Regions from separate parts of the Homo sapiens genome. Here region 2 is reported to be linked to region 1. The links are microRNA targets in miRTarBase. Many come from high-throughput screens and were not tested one by one. Region 1 holds a microRNA gene; the other region holds the end of a gene's coding sequence. Distances are between the middles of the regions.
Evidence for each region. The annotated mature microRNA hsa-miR-6734-5p reads UUGAGGGGAGAAUGAGGUGGAGA and lies in region 1 at 4,394-4,416, shown strand. An mRNA with a match to its seed (bases 2 to 7 or 8) in the 3' UTR can be bound and repressed. Matches are read on the target gene's strand: a 7mer-m8 pairs with bases 2 to 8, a 7mer-A1 pairs with bases 2 to 7 and ends in A, and an 8mer does both.

Region 1 (7,094 bases):
CAAGCAGTTGTTAGATCGTTGTGTGCTACTGTTCCAGGGGCCGCTGGAGGTAGAAATTCCATTTCACTAAAATCTAGTCTGTCCTTTGCCCCCACTAGTTGAGTCCAGTTAGTGAGTGTGGAGGTGGGGGCTGGAGGTGTAGAAGAGATAAATAAATATATAGAGAGCCAGTCCAGCTGTCTGGAGGACATTGTCCGCCTCCTCCAATCCCATCAGTTGCCACATCTTCTTTGGTCAGGCTGGCTTTCTCACCTGGTCTCCTTTCTGTGCCCTCCTCACACTGGCTGCCAAAGTGATTCAGCCAGATAGACTGCAAGCCCCGTGAGTGCACGGACGGTGGGTGGTCCATAAACGTCTGATGAACTAATGATACAAGCTTGAATATAGTCTCCTAAAAAAATCTTTAGTTTCTCCTCTGCTTCTAGAATAAAAATCAGATCGCCCCATTTGGCCTTCAAGACCTACTACATTCAGCCACAGTCAGCTTCATTTCCCTTTTTTCCTTTCACTACCTCGAAGGCCAGATTAGCCAGTGATTCACTATGCTTGCCCCGGGCCACTTGTATCCTCTCACCTCCGTTCCAGGCAGCCCTCGCAGCAGATCCTAACGCTTAGGGCTCCTCCAAGTGTACAGGCTCGTGAGGCTTCCCTCCCGCTAAGACCAGTGCGCCCTCAGCACACGCAGTGTGGTCTCGCCCGCCGCTCTGCGCTCGCCCTGCAGGAGAGGGAGCTCTTTGAAGGCAAGGCCGAACCTCCCCCGAGCCCTGAGCTGGGCCTGCCGCCACAGATGTGCAGTCCTGCCGGGGAGCAGTCACCCGGGGACAGGGCCGGGCCCCGGGCTGCACGTCGGGAAGAGACAGCGTGCTCCTGAGGTGGCCAGGCCGCTGCAACTGGCCAGGGCGGGCCCGGGCGGCGAGGGAAGGGGTGGGAAGCCCGGGCCGCGGCGCTTCCTGCTGGGACCCGGCGGCACGCCCCTGCCCCCGCCCCGGCCGAGCCTGCGCTGCCGGCCTCCGGCCCTGCCGGCCGCCCAATCAGCGGGCGCCCCCCGCGCGGCCCGCCCCTCCCCCTCTGGTGACAGAAAGTCGGCCCAGCAGATGAGGAAGTGGCAGGCAGGCAGGCTGGCCCCGGGGACTTCTCTCTGGCCCTGCTCCCTCCGAGCGCTCCGCCGTTGCCCGCCTGGCCCCTACGGGTGAGTCTGGACCTTCCACGGACTCTCCACGTGCCGGCGCCCCCTGCCTGGCCAGCCCGGCCCAGCCCGGCCCAGCCCTGCCCTGCCCTGCCCAGGCTGTGGGCGAGGGTGTTCCCGGGGCCAGTGGGTGGGAGGTCCCAGCTCCCTGGGGCCGGGCCTCGCCAGCACCCTCCCTCCCCCACACCCCCGTCTCTGGCCCCCATTTGCCTACACCCGGGCCTTCCTCCACCACCCCTGCATTTACCTCTCTCCCTCCTCCTCTCCCCTCCCTCCCCCCGCTACCCTAACTTTGCCAGGCACCTTTTCCCTTCCATCCATCTTAAAGGAAGGAAGGGACGGGCTGAGTTCCCCGACGAGAGACACACCCAGATTTTCCTGCAGCTTGGGGAGAGGTCCTCCCAGGAGCCTTGGTCCCTCCTGGCCTGCCGGGTGTGTGGGTTGATATTGGGGGCTGGTGGTTGAGAGATAACAGGCTGGCTGGCTCCCATGTGTCAGGGAGGAACCTGTGTTGGCGCCCTCGCCCCGGCCTGGGCCCTGCCGGCGATGGGCGGCCAGCAAGCCCGATGGTGGGGGAGCAAGTAAGGAGGGGATCCGAGCGTGGCCAGGCAGCGCGCACACGTGTGTGAGTGGCCCCGCGGGTGAGCCCGTGCGTGTGCCTGGGCGGTGGCCGAGCTGCGTGAGGGCCGGGAGCCATGCGTGTCAGCCCACGGAGGTGTTGCGTGGTGTGTCAGGCAGGAGACGTGTGTGCCAGCCCTCGGCGTGGCACCTTCGCTGTTGGGGGTGGAGAGCTAGGTGAGAGGTGGGTGTGGACCGCAGGCTTGGGGCCTGACCACGGTGGGCCTAAAGAAGCCGGGCCTCCTGGAGGTGAGGGGTGTGCGGGGCAGGGAGGTGTCAGAGGTGCGCCTCTTCACTTGGCATCTGCAGAGGTGCTTCTCTGGAAGCAGGGAGTCTGGGGCACCTGCTGCCCTGGGCCCTGCTCTGTTCCAAGAATGCCTTGTCCCTCAGGGACTGTCAGTACCATGCTCTCCTGGGTCTGGCCAGAGGCTTTTGTGTCCCTGGGAGCCTTCCCCCGACATTCCTTCAGGCCCTGAGGGGGAGGGGGCCTAGCCCAACGGGGCCCCTCCCTGAGGGAGGGGAAGATTCCTGCGACCTCCCCCACTCCCCAACCCCTTCACATGCCACTGGCTTCCCTGCCCTTCCCAGGAAGGGAAGAGTGATTGTACCCATTCTGAAGTAGGACAAACTGAGCAGTTATGGCCGGCTTAGGAGAGGATGCTGGGTGTGGATTTTCAGCAGTGCTTTGGGCCAGGGCTGGGGCTGGGGCTGGGGTCAGAGGAGGTTTCTGGCTCAGAATCTAGGACCTTAGCTCATCAGGCTGGTCCCACGTGGGTGGGTGGGTGGCGAGTCTGGGGCTTTACTTGGCTTTCCCAATCCTGGTGGGTCCTGCTCCCCCAGGCACTGACCTGTGGCCCGGACCCACCCTCCACCCCCTGCACAGTACAGCAGGGGCGGGCAGAGGGCGGGGCTGCTGCCAGATCTAGTCAGACAGGTGGAGCCGCCGGGGCAGGAGTCTCAAAGAGCCAGGCTCCAGGAGAGGAAGGGCTCTGCGAGAGGAGAGAGGAGAGCGCTGGAGAGGAGAGGCTGGAGGTGAGAGTCCCAGGAAAGGCAGAGGAGAATCGTAGGGACATAAGTGTCCCAGCACAGGCAAGGAGGAATCCGAGGATAAGGTTCTGGAGGGACAGAAGGGCCCAGAGAGGTGAGAGTCCTGGCAGGGACAGGAGGGACCCTGGGGAGAAGAGAGTTCAGGAAGGGTCCAGAGGGATGGGAAGAGGAGAGGGCAGGAGAGGAGAGATTGAAGGGGAGAATCCCTGGAGAGAAGAAAGACCCAGAGCTGGGGAGGTGAGGGACTCGGGTGAGGAAGGGAGACGGAGTTCAAGAGCTCCCTGTTGGTGAGAAGGTAAGATTCTCCAGTAAGAGACCTGGAATTGAGAGTTATCTTGTGGAGGAAGAGGGGAAGGGAGGCCAGGAAGTAAAACTGTGGAGAGGAGAGGAGAGTAAGGTGTGGAGAGGAAGGGTGGAACAGCTCTTCCCAGGCAAGCAGGATGTGTGGGGAGCAGATGCCTCAACCAAACTGCCTCCTCCCCCTAGTTCCCAGTAATTCCTTCCTTTCACTGTTCTGTCCTTTCTGCAATGAGGCATTGCAGGTGTCTTGTCTGGTTCTGTGTCTTATCTCTGTGGGATGGGGGTGTGCAGTGGGATCTGTCTGACATCCGCCCTCTGTACCTCCCCAGAGTCCTTAGCCAGGATGGAGGCTGTTGTGAACTTGTACCAAGAGGTGATGAAGCACGCAGGTAAGACGCTATCCACCAGCCCTTTCCTTCCTTCTTTCCCGGGATCCCTGGATCTACGGCTGTCTTCTAATGGAGAGTTCCTATGAAACCCTTGATCCTGTGACCTGACCTCATGTCTGTAGACCCTTCAAATGAAGACCCTTCGAACCCTGTGACTCTTCCTGATTCCTTTGACCCTTATTCATAGATCCCCGGATCCAGGGCTACCCTCTGATGGGGTCCCCCTTGCTAATGACCTCCATTCTCCTGACCTACGTGTACTTCGTTCTCTCACTTGGGCCTCGCATCATGGCTAATCGGAAGCCCTTCCAGCTCCGTGGCTTCATGATTGTCTACAACTTCTCACTGGTGGCACTCTCCCTCTACATTGTCTATGAGGTGGGCCCCTGGGATGCCGGGCTTTAATTTCTGTCAGCAGGATAAGGAGCAGGCCATAGAGCCAGAGCATGGCATTTCTCCTTTCCAGAGAGGTTCAGATCCATGTCCTCAGCTAGCGAAGGGGAGGGATGGCTGGGAAGGGAGAACTCTGGTGGTCTAATCCACATCCCTTCCCAGTTCCTGATGTCGGGCTGGCTGAGCACCTATACCTGGCGCTGTGACCCTGTGGACTATTCCAACAGCCCTGAGGCACTTAGGGTAAGTAGGGGCTGGGGCTAGGTCATAAGCAACCTGGTAGATATGACCAGTTTGGGGCCTGTGCTCAAGGCCCAGTTTAGGGAGGCTCTTAGAATAGTGTATGAGGTCCTAAGGCTATCCCAACTTCTTGCAGATGGTTCGGGTGGCCTGGCTCTTCCTCTTCTCCAAGTTCATTGAGCTGATGGACACAGTGAGTAGTTATATGAGATGTGAGAACTTGAGGGGAGAATGAGGTGGAGAAGCCCAGGTTCTGAATCCCCTTCCCTCACTCTTCTCTCAGGTGATCTTTATTCTCCGAAAGAAAGACGGGCAGGTGACCTTCCTACATGTCTTCCATCACTCTGTGCTTCCCTGGAGCTGGTGGTGGGGGGTAAAGATTGCCCCGGGTGAGTGGTGAAGGCCACTATGGGAAAGGGTGGGCACCAGAGGCTGGACTCTGCTGACCCTGTCTTATTGTCCACTCACAGGAGGAATGGGCTCTTTCCATGCCATGATAAACTCTTCCGTGCATGTCATAATGTACCTGTACTACGGATTATCTGCCTTTGGCCCTGTGGCACAACCCTACCTTTGGTGGAAAAAGCACATGACAGCCATTCAGCTGGTGAGGGGCTTGGCCTGACTTACCTATAACCATCCCCCCACATTCCTAGCCTGGATCCTGCCTTTATCCAGTCTGTCTCACCTTTGACCCCATCTCTCCCTACTCAACGTTTGTCTCTTTCTCTACCCCCTCTTCCCCTCTAGTCCTCTCACTATTCCCTCTGACCCTGGTCTTTCTCTATCCTAGATCCAGTTTGTCCTGGTCTCACTGCACATCTCCCAGTACTACTTTATGTCCAGCTGTAACTACCAGTACCCAGTCATTATTCACCTCATCTGGATGTATGGCACCATCTTCTTCATGCTGTTCTCCAACTTCTGGTATCACTCTTATACCAAGGGCAAGCGGCTGCCCCGTGCACTTCAGCAAAATGGAGCTCCAGGTATTGCCAAGGTCAAGGCCAACTGAGAAGCATGGCCTAGATAGGCGCCCACCTAAGTGCCTCAGGACTGCACCTTAGGGCAGTGTCCGTCAGTGCCCTCTCCACCTACACCTGTGACCAAGGCTTATGTGGTCAGGACTGAGCAGGGGACTGGCCCTCCCCTCCCCACAGCTGCTCTACAGGGACCACGGCTTTGGTTCCTCACCCACTTCCCCCGGGCAGCTCCAGGGATGTGGCCTCATTGCTGTCTGCCACTCCAGAGCTGGGGGCTAAAAGGGCTGTACAGTTATTTCCCCCTCCCTGCCTTAAAACTTGGGAGAGGAGCACTCAGGGCTGGCCCCACAAAGGGTCTCGTGGCCTTTTTCCTCACACAGAAGAGGTCAGCAATAATGTCACTGTGGACCCAGTCTCACTCCTCCACCCCACACACTGAAGCAGTAGCTTCTGGGCCAAAGGTCAGGGTGGGCGGGGGCCTGGGAATACAGCCTGTGGAGGCTGCTTACTCAACTTGTGTCTTAATTAAAAGTGACAGAGGAAACCACGGAGGCTGTGTGTATACGTATGTGAACAGAGGAGGTGGGGGAACACAACACGCTTAGCCCTGTCCACAAACAAGAGGGATGGATGGTCCAGGCTCCCACAGGACATATCTAGCTCTCTGATCCCAGTAGAGTAGAGCCCCTAGGAAGGCTGCTGGGACATAGGTCATGAAAGAAGAAAGGCATTAGCTGAAACAGATTTAAAAAAAAAACATGAAGGGAGACATGACTTTATTAGAAAAATAAAAAACAACTGAGGTGATGGGTTGGTCTTCAGCGGATGCCTTGGTGGATGAGGCTGCTTTTGGCTGCACTGGCCTTCTCCCGCTCCCGCCGCCGCGCAGGGTCCAACTCAAAACAGCGCCATAGCCTCAGGGTCTCATCTGCTGCTGCGGATGCCACTGTGGCCCCATCTGGGCTCATGGTCAGACTCAGGACCCGGGATGTGTGACCTGGAGCAAATGAGAACAGTACATACGAATGCTGATGCAGCCATAGCCATAAAGGAGGCACTGGGCCACCCACCTACCTTTTTGTTTTTTTTGAGACTTGCTCTGTCACCCAGGCTGGAGTGCAGTGGCGCAATCTTGGCTCACTGCAAGCTCCGCCTCCTGGGTTCATGCCATTTTCCTGCCTCAGCCTCCCGAGTAGCTGGGACTACAGGTGCTTGCCACCACGCCTGGCTAATTTTTTGTGTTTTTTAGTAGAGACAGGGCTTCACCATGTTAGCCAGGATTGTCTCTATCTCCTGACCTCATGATCTGCCCGCCTCAGCCTCCCAAAGTGCTGGGATTACAGGCGTGAGCCACCGTGCCTGGCCTCCTCCCTTTTTTTTCAATGGTGTTACTGAGATATAATTCACACACCATAAAATGCATCCTTTTAAAGTGTACAGTTTAGTGATTTTTAGTATATTCACAAAATTGTACAACTGTTAAAACTAATTCTAAGACATTTTCAACATTTCCCATTACCCTCTCTCAGCCCCTGGCAACCATTAATGTGTTTTTTCTCTGGATTTGCTTATTCTGGACATTTCAGTCATACATTATGTGGCCTTTTATGTCCGGCTTTTCACCTAGCCACTTACCTTTGAGTTCAGCCACCTTGGCCATGGTTGGGTACTTCCAAATAACTAGCTGGTTCTGTGCAAAGCCATGGCCTGAGATGAGCTCCTTGTAATGGGGAGACCAGAGGATGGAGCACACCTGTGGAGAGGAGCTGGTGTGGGCATGACATATAGCCAAGGCTACTTAAATCAGAACTGAGCCCATTCTAGTGTTAGGCACCCTGCCACATGCTCCAGACTCAGAGTTGAATGATCATAGTCCATACAAAAGTTCCTTGAGAGGCAAATTATAGACACTCGCTGATGTAACCATTTTTTACCTTT
Region 2 (7,117 bases), 120 Mb from region 1:
TCACGCCTTCCTCTTGAGCCTTTCCGTGGGTTGTTTGCATGCTCAGAGTGTGTGTGGGCTGTGGACCAGCAAATAGCCATTGATCACATATTGTGCCAGAAACTGTGATAGAATTTTTTGCCTGTGAGCTCATTTAATCCCTGTAGTTCTGCTGCAGAAAAATGGGATGCCATTTTACAGATGAGGTAACAGACTCAGGGAGGTTAAGTAACTAGCTCAAGGTTATAGGCCTAGCAAGGAGCAGAGCCAAGATTCAAACCTAGATCTGATTGCAAAATTTTGTTCCAACTATACCAGTGGTTCCCCCAAACCATCCCATGAGCTCTTTTAAAAATGCGTCTTTCCTACTGAGATCCTACATCGTTCTGTCTAGGGCTGGTCTGGGAGCCTGTATTTTTAAAGTAGCCCAGAGGTGTGGATTGGAAACCAGTGCCCTTCACCACTCTGGAAGCCTCTCTGGATTTTCCAGATTGTTCATTGAAACTCTGCTCTATCCTAATTAATGCTTATTTACATGATTGTACTAAAGGTTACCACAGGCTTCTAACATGGTTCTCTCAATTGGTACCTTTTTCCTACCACTAACCCTATTCAGAGCCTTCAGTGGCTACCAGAACCATCATATGGTTCTTATGTCCCCGCCTTTACCACGTCCCAAAGCTCCTCCCCTCCAGCGAGGTGTGTCTGGAGCTATGTGGGGGCGGGAGGAAGGGTGAAGTGTTAAGAGACCCAAAGCCCGGAGAGGTGCTGCTAAGCTGGTCTGGGAAGGGCTTTGGCAGGGCACGGGCGGGCAGAAGGCGGGCATCCCAAATCAACAACCTTGCCTAACGCTGCCCCTCTGCTACCTCTTGTCTCCCCTGCAGTGGGCTCCCAGGACAGCTTGCTGGAGATCACCTTCCGCTCCGGAGCCCTGCCCGTGCTCTGTGACCCCACGACCCCTAAGCCAGAGGACCTGCATTCGCCGCCGCTGGGCGCGGGCTTGGCTGACTTTGCCCACCCTGCGGGCAGCCCCTTAGGTAGGCGCGACTGCTTGGTGAAGCTGGAGTGCTTTCGCTTTCTTCCGCCCGAGGACACCCCGCCCCCAGCGCAGGGCGAGGCGCTCCTGGGCGGTCTGGAGCTCATCAAGTTCCGAGAGTCAGGCATCGCCTCGGAGTACGAGTCCAACACGGACGAGAGCGAGGAGCGCGACTCGTGGTCCCAGGAGGAGCTGCCGCGCCTGCTGAATGTCCTGCAGAGGCAGGAACTGGGCGACGGCCTGGATGATGAGATCGCCGTGTAGGTGCCGAGGGCGAGGAGATGGAGGCGGCGGCGTGGCTGGAGGGGCCGTGTCTGGCTGCTGCCCGGGTAGGGGATGCCCAGTGAATGTGCACTGCCGAGGAGAATGCCAGCCAGGGCCCGGGAGAGTGTGAGGTTTCAGGAAAGTATTGAGATTCTGCTTTGGAGGGTAAAGTGGGGAAGAAATCGGATTCCCAGAGGTGAATCAGCTCCTCTCCTACTTGTGACTAGAGGGTGGTGGAGGTAAGGCCTTCCAGAGCCCATGGCTTCAGGAGAGGGTCTCTCTCCAGGACTGCCAGGCTGCTGGAGGACCTGCCCCTACCTGCTGCATCGTCAGGCTCCCACGCTTTGTCCGTGATGCCCCCCTACCCCCTCACTCTCCCCGTCTCCATGGTCCCGACCAGGAAGGGAAGCCATCGGTACCTTCTCAGGTACTTTGTTTCTGGATATCACGATGCTGCGAGTTGCCTAACCCTCCCCCTACCTTTATGAGAGGAATTCCTTCTCCAGGCCCTTGCTGAGATTGTAGAGATTGAGTGCTCTGGACCGCAAAAGCCAGGCTAGTCCTTGTAGGGTGAGCATGGAATTGGAATGTGTCACAGTGGATAAGCTTTTAGAGGAACTGAATCCAAACATTTTCTCCAGCCGGACATTGAATGTTGCTACAAAGGGAGCCTTGAAGCTTTAACATGGTTCAGGCCCTTGGTGTGAGAGCCCAGGGGGAGGACAGCTTGTCTGCTGCTCCAAATCACTTAGATCTGATTCCTGTTTTGAAAGTCCTGCCCTGCCTTCCTCCTGCCTGTAGCCCAGCCCATCTAAATGGAAGCTGGGAATTGCCCCTCACCTCCCCTGTGTCCTGTCCAGCTGAAGCTTTTGCAGCACTTTACCTCTCTGAAAGCCCCAGAGGACCAGAGCCCCCAGCCTTACCTCTCAACCTGTCCCCTCCACTGGGCAGTGGTGGTCAGTTTTTACTGCAAAAAAAAAAAAAGAAAAAAGAGAAAGAAAAAAAAGAATGAATGCAAGCTGATAGCTGAGACTGTGAGACTGTTTTTGTCCACTCTTCTGAATCACTGCCACTTGGGTCAGGGACCACAGCCATTGCCACCCTTGGCCCATCTCTCTGCGTGCGTGCCTTGAGCACACATATAAAAAGTGCCATGTGCAATTGTCTTATCTTTTATGATCTAGGCTTTGCCTAGGGATCACTACTCCTTAACGGGCTGGCTGGGGCAATGAGGAAAAGCTCCTTTGCTCCTGTAAGGCCATAAGTGGCTGTTAACAGATTTTCAAATGCCTGAAGAGATTGCTGAGACCTGCTAGAGTCATATGTTCGGGGAATTAAGTCTTTATCCTAGACAACAAGGTACAGATGCAAACTGCAGTGTTATTGGAGGGTCAATCGGCAAGGATATGATTATCCCAAAATGGAGTTCATCGACCCTAGCTTTCCTTTAGATTATATATAAATAAAAGTGCAGTCCTCTTCTAATGGCCACAGTTGGTTTTCTTGTAGCCCAGAAAGTCCAAATTAAAGGAAATAAATTCAGTTTTATGTTAGCCTTCCTTGGTGCATCAGGGTGTCAGTGGAAATAGGATCAGGTGGTGTGTGTGTGTGTGTTTTGTGTGTGTGTGTACACATGTGTTTATATATACATGTGTGAGGGAAAGTGTGTACATATATGTAGGATTGTAACCAGACGGAAAAGAACGAGGATCTCCAGGGTGTTTGAATCAGCAACAGATTTGTGTTTTCTAACATGCATTTAGTTGGAGAGGCATGGTTCTGTTTGTTTTGTTTTGATCTAATTTGCCATTGGAAATAGGTACAGTTACACAGAGAAGGAAGAACCAGGAAAGTGAGATCCATGAAACTAAATGAGCAGCTGTCAGAATCCAGTGTGGCTGAGCCTACCTAGCTTATGAAATCTAACCCAGGGTTCCCTGAGTCCAAGACCACTTAGATTATTAAGATTTTGAACGTCCAGAGGAGTGAAAAGTCTGTTTTCTGACGTAAGCCGGAGCTGAGGATAAAGCCAGAGGCCAGTGGATTAGGTGTATGGAATGTGGATGGAGAGGGCTTGTGTGGGATGTGGCCAGGGAGTGGGTGAGGAAGGCCGCTTCTAAATGGCCTGTAAAAACTTGAGATTGGATAGACGAAAGGAAATGGAGAAATTAAAGAATTGGAGAAACTAGTTATCTGTGTTGCTGACTTTGGGACCCATCCAAGACTCCTGCCCTTGGGGTGTTCCATGGTGGTTTCTTCCTGCCTGGGCGCCACCCTTTCCCCAGTTCAGGCCCTCCCTGGAGGACTAGTTTGTGTATTGGTATCCTCCCCAGTGGACCCAAACCAGCGCATACTTGGTGTGTGGAGATGGGAGACAAAGGACAGATCTAGGAGCCTTGAAGGATCACCAGCCACCGACCCTCCATCAGGGCCAACTGGGCAGGAAAGGGAACATTGCAGACCTGATTTCCCGACGATGTCACCCTGTCCTCCCTCCTTGCTTCTTGCTCTGCTAACTCAACTCTGCCTTCCTCTTTTTCATTCTTCTACTCTGCCCTATATGGAGGACAAATGGACACCAGGGGTGCTAACCTTATTGGTGCCTGCCCCAGCCTACCCCAGGTGCCAGCAGACTCTCGTGCACAGGAGGCTCCCACAGTTATGGAGCCAGGAAAGAATTTCTCTGCACTGGATGGACTGTATATTGAGATTAAAAATTATATTCCTTATATTCCTGCTTATATCAATGCTCTCTCTGTAAAACCTCTTCCTAGCCTCATTTCTCTCAACTGATCTTGTTTAGGCGTTGTATTCCTTTTATTTACTCTTTGCTTGACTGCTTCCTCCTAACCCTCTACCCACTAGCACTCTACTTCCTAAAGCTGTTGTGTCATTAACTCTGTTGGATCAACTCTCTGGGAAAAGATTCTGTTAATGTAAGTGCACTTACTCCCTGGATGTTGTCACTAGTCTAGTGGCTTTTGCTAAATAAACCTTTCTTATTTCTAGAAGCTTTTCCATTGTCTTTTCTTGCTGCTTCTATTCCACCTGCTCCTTCTCTCCCCCTCACTTCCACCCCACTTCCCAAGCCAAGTGGCATCAGCTCTGTGAGATGGTTCCCAAGGGTATGGGATTGAGGAAAGATTCACAAGTTCCCTGTAGGAGGAGAGGAAGATGGTGGCTTCATTTGCACTTTATATAGATCAGCCCTGCGGGATCAGAGGTATCAGTGGTTCTTAACTAGGCCTGATTTTTCCTCACCAGGGGACATCTGACAATGTCTAGAAATGTTTTTGGTTGTCACAAAGCTACTGGCATGTAGTGAGTGAAGCCAGGGATACTGATCAATATCCTACAATGCACAGGACAGCCCCCCACAACAAAGAATCATCCAGCCCCAAATGTCAGTAGTCCTGAGATTGGGAAACTCGTCTACACCCATTTTTGCCGACTCTGCCAATCCCAGGTTTTTTCAAACTCCAAATATCATTAGAATATGTGGGTAGTAGCAGCCAGTTGGTTTTTTTGGTTTTGGGTTTCAGGGCTTTTTGTTTTTCAGGTGTTTTTAAGGCAGGGTCTCACTCTGTCGCCCAGGCTGGAGTGCATGATCATGGCTCACTGCAGCCCTGACCTCCCTGGGCTCCATGATCCTCCCACTTCAGCCTCCTGAGTAGCAGGACTACAGGTGTGTGCCACCACACCCAGCTAATTTTTCTATTTTTTGTAGAGACGGGTTTCGCCATGTTGTCCGGGCTGGTTTCAAACTCTTGAGCTCAAGCAATTCTCCCACCTTGGCCTCCCAAAGTGCTGGGATTGCAGGCATGAGCCACCACACCTGGCCAGCATCAAGTTCTGAGTGCTTGAAAAATTACTACATCATAGATATTTGCCAATATAACTGTGTAATTGTATAAACAAGATTATTCAGCTCATGCCAGTAATCCCAGCACTTTGGGAGGCCGAGGCAGGTGGATCGCTTGTGCTCAGGAGTTTGAATCAACCTGGGCAACATGGGGAAAGACCGTTACTAAAAAAAAAAAAACATAAAAATTAGCCACGCATGGTGGTGAGTGGCTGTGGTCCAAGCTACTTGGGAGGCTGAGGTGGGAGGATGGCTTCAGCCTGGGAGGCGGAGGTTGCAGTGAGCCGAGATCATGCCACTGCACGCTCCAGCCTTGATGATAGAGCGAGACCCTGTCTCAAGGAAAAGAAAAAAAAAAAGATTATACTATTTCACGGACTTCATGACTAAATGCCTGAAATATGTAGTTGGTAGAAGTCTGAATAGGCCCATTCCAGAAATGTTCATACTGGGGACAAAACTGGCTCCTCCTCATACCTACCTCGGCGGGGATCATGGTATCACTATGACACAGCTCAGCACAGAAGTCCTGATTCATGGGAATGTAGGCTTCCCTGCAAGGAGTACAAATGAAAGGGCAGAGGAGCCTGGTAAAGGAGGGAGTGTTTGAGGAATGAGGAGCTGTGGGATCACACAGAACAGACTTTAGAAAAGCCAGGTCACTTTGGCTGGAACTTTTAGCCATTTTGCAGGCAGAGGATGTGTTAGGCCTGATGGCTTCGTCAGGCCCAGGCTAGAGAGAAAGTTGAAAAGGTTAGATCAACTGGGTTCACATGCTCTCTGTTCTTTTCTGGCTAAGTGAACTGAACTGAGTTTTGTATTCTCATCTCGAAAATGGGGATAGTATAAACCACACAAAGCTACTATGGAAAGTAAATGAGATTGTATTTTAAAAGCACCCAGTAGAGAGTGCCTGGCAGTGACCCAGGGTACAGAACAATTTCCCTTTTAGGGAGCTTCCTTCTGCCTGCACCTGTGCTGCTCAGTACAGTGCTGGGTGCTCTTTCCTGCTCTGCTAAAACTTAGCTCTGTACTGAGAAAATTCCTGGGGTTACATTGATACAACATTAAATGTGGAATGTGAAAAACGCCCTGTCTTTAGGGAGAAGACACTAACCACGAGCACCTGGCAGGCGGGATGGGCACGTGCCATGGCACCTGGGCTCAGTCCCTGGCCTGCTTGTTTTCCTTCTCGTGATATGTTCTATGCCTGTTGTACAGATGCCATAGAGAAGGGAGCATGGGGTTGGCAAAGGACAGAGACAACAGTAGCTCGGAGTGAGGATTAAAAAGATTGCCCAGAGCCACTCATCTGCCCTTTCAGGGCACAGGGTCCTGGGAGTGATGTCAGGGCTGCCTGGAGACCTCTGCACACTGGACTGGATAGGTTGTGACCTTGTCCTGGATCCCAGCCCAGCTGGAGCCTGGCAGTCAATTGGACTTTGGGATGCAGGCTGGGTGGGGTTGGGGACAGAATGGGGTGAGAAGCATGGCTCGAGGGCACAGGGCCGCAGTGGTCTCACAGCACATGATGCGATGGGGATCGAGCCCAGCCTCCCTCCCACTCTGTGGGGAACGACCACAAATGAGGTTTTAGCAGCACACTGATAAGCAGAGCAGCTCTGCTAAGCCACAGATAAGACTCTGGAGGAAAAGCCTTTGGGAGGTGAGGGAGGACCCTCCACACCACCTGCTGGCCAAGCCCTGAGGGAGGCAAAGACCAGGGCGGGGGTTTGTGCCAGGGTCCCTGCAAGGCAGTGCCCACTGCAGTGGAGGGGCTACTGAGTCATCAGGGTGATAAAGCAAGAGGTAAATGAGGCCTGAAAGGATGACCAGCAAGCATTTGGTGCTTTTTAAAAACCACATTACAGTCAAGATAGATGTCTCTGCTGCATCCCTGATGCTTATCCATCTTTCTGGGTCAGATGGACCAGGAGGTTCACTCAGAAATGGAGGCAGAGTCAGGGCTGCCCACT

Region 2: the mRNA of NOS1AP is a reported target of hsa-miR-6734-5p. Seed matches in the 3' UTR shown: 7mer-m8 at 1,645-1,651 and 7mer-m8 at 2,112-2,118.

What each region holds. Positions count from the first base shown.
Region 1 is chr1:43,362,010-43,369,103 of GRCh38, reverse strand. It overlaps MIR6734 (microRNA 6734), which reads left to right and starts at 4,389; the gene lies at 4,389-4,456. CDC20 (cell division cycle 20) reads right to left here. Exons shown (of 11, transcript NM_001255.3): 10 at 6,792-6,909; 11 at 5,901-6,153. The coding sequence ends at 5,975. ELOVL1 (ELOVL fatty acid elongase 1) reads left to right here and starts at 1,093. Exons shown (of 8, transcript NM_022821.4): 1 at 1,093-1,189; 2 at 3,481-3,540; 3 at 3,728-3,918; 4 at 4,096-4,176; 5 at 4,310-4,366; 6 at 4,457-4,562; 7 at 4,644-4,780; 8 at 4,967-5,703. The coding sequence starts at 3,495. The coding sequence ends at 5,188. It overlaps LOC112268225 (a long non-coding RNA gene), which reads right to left and starts at 892. Exons shown (of 2, transcript XR_007066049.1): 1 at 1-892. RefSeq lists enhancers at 244-323, 917-1,651, 1,652-2,386 and silencers at 764-1,443, 2,704-2,793.
Region 2 is chr1:162,366,189-162,373,305 of GRCh38, forward strand. It overlaps NOS1AP (nitric oxide synthase 1 adaptor protein), which reads left to right. Exons shown (of 10, transcript NM_014697.3): 10 at 864-4,287. The coding sequence ends at 1,279. SPATA46 (spermatogenesis associated 46) reads right to left here. Exons shown (of 3, transcript NM_182581.4): 3 at 7,015-7,117. Among named protein-coding and RNA genes, the nearest start is that of SPATA46, 7.1 kb to the right of the region's middle. RefSeq lists an enhancer at 1,015-1,514.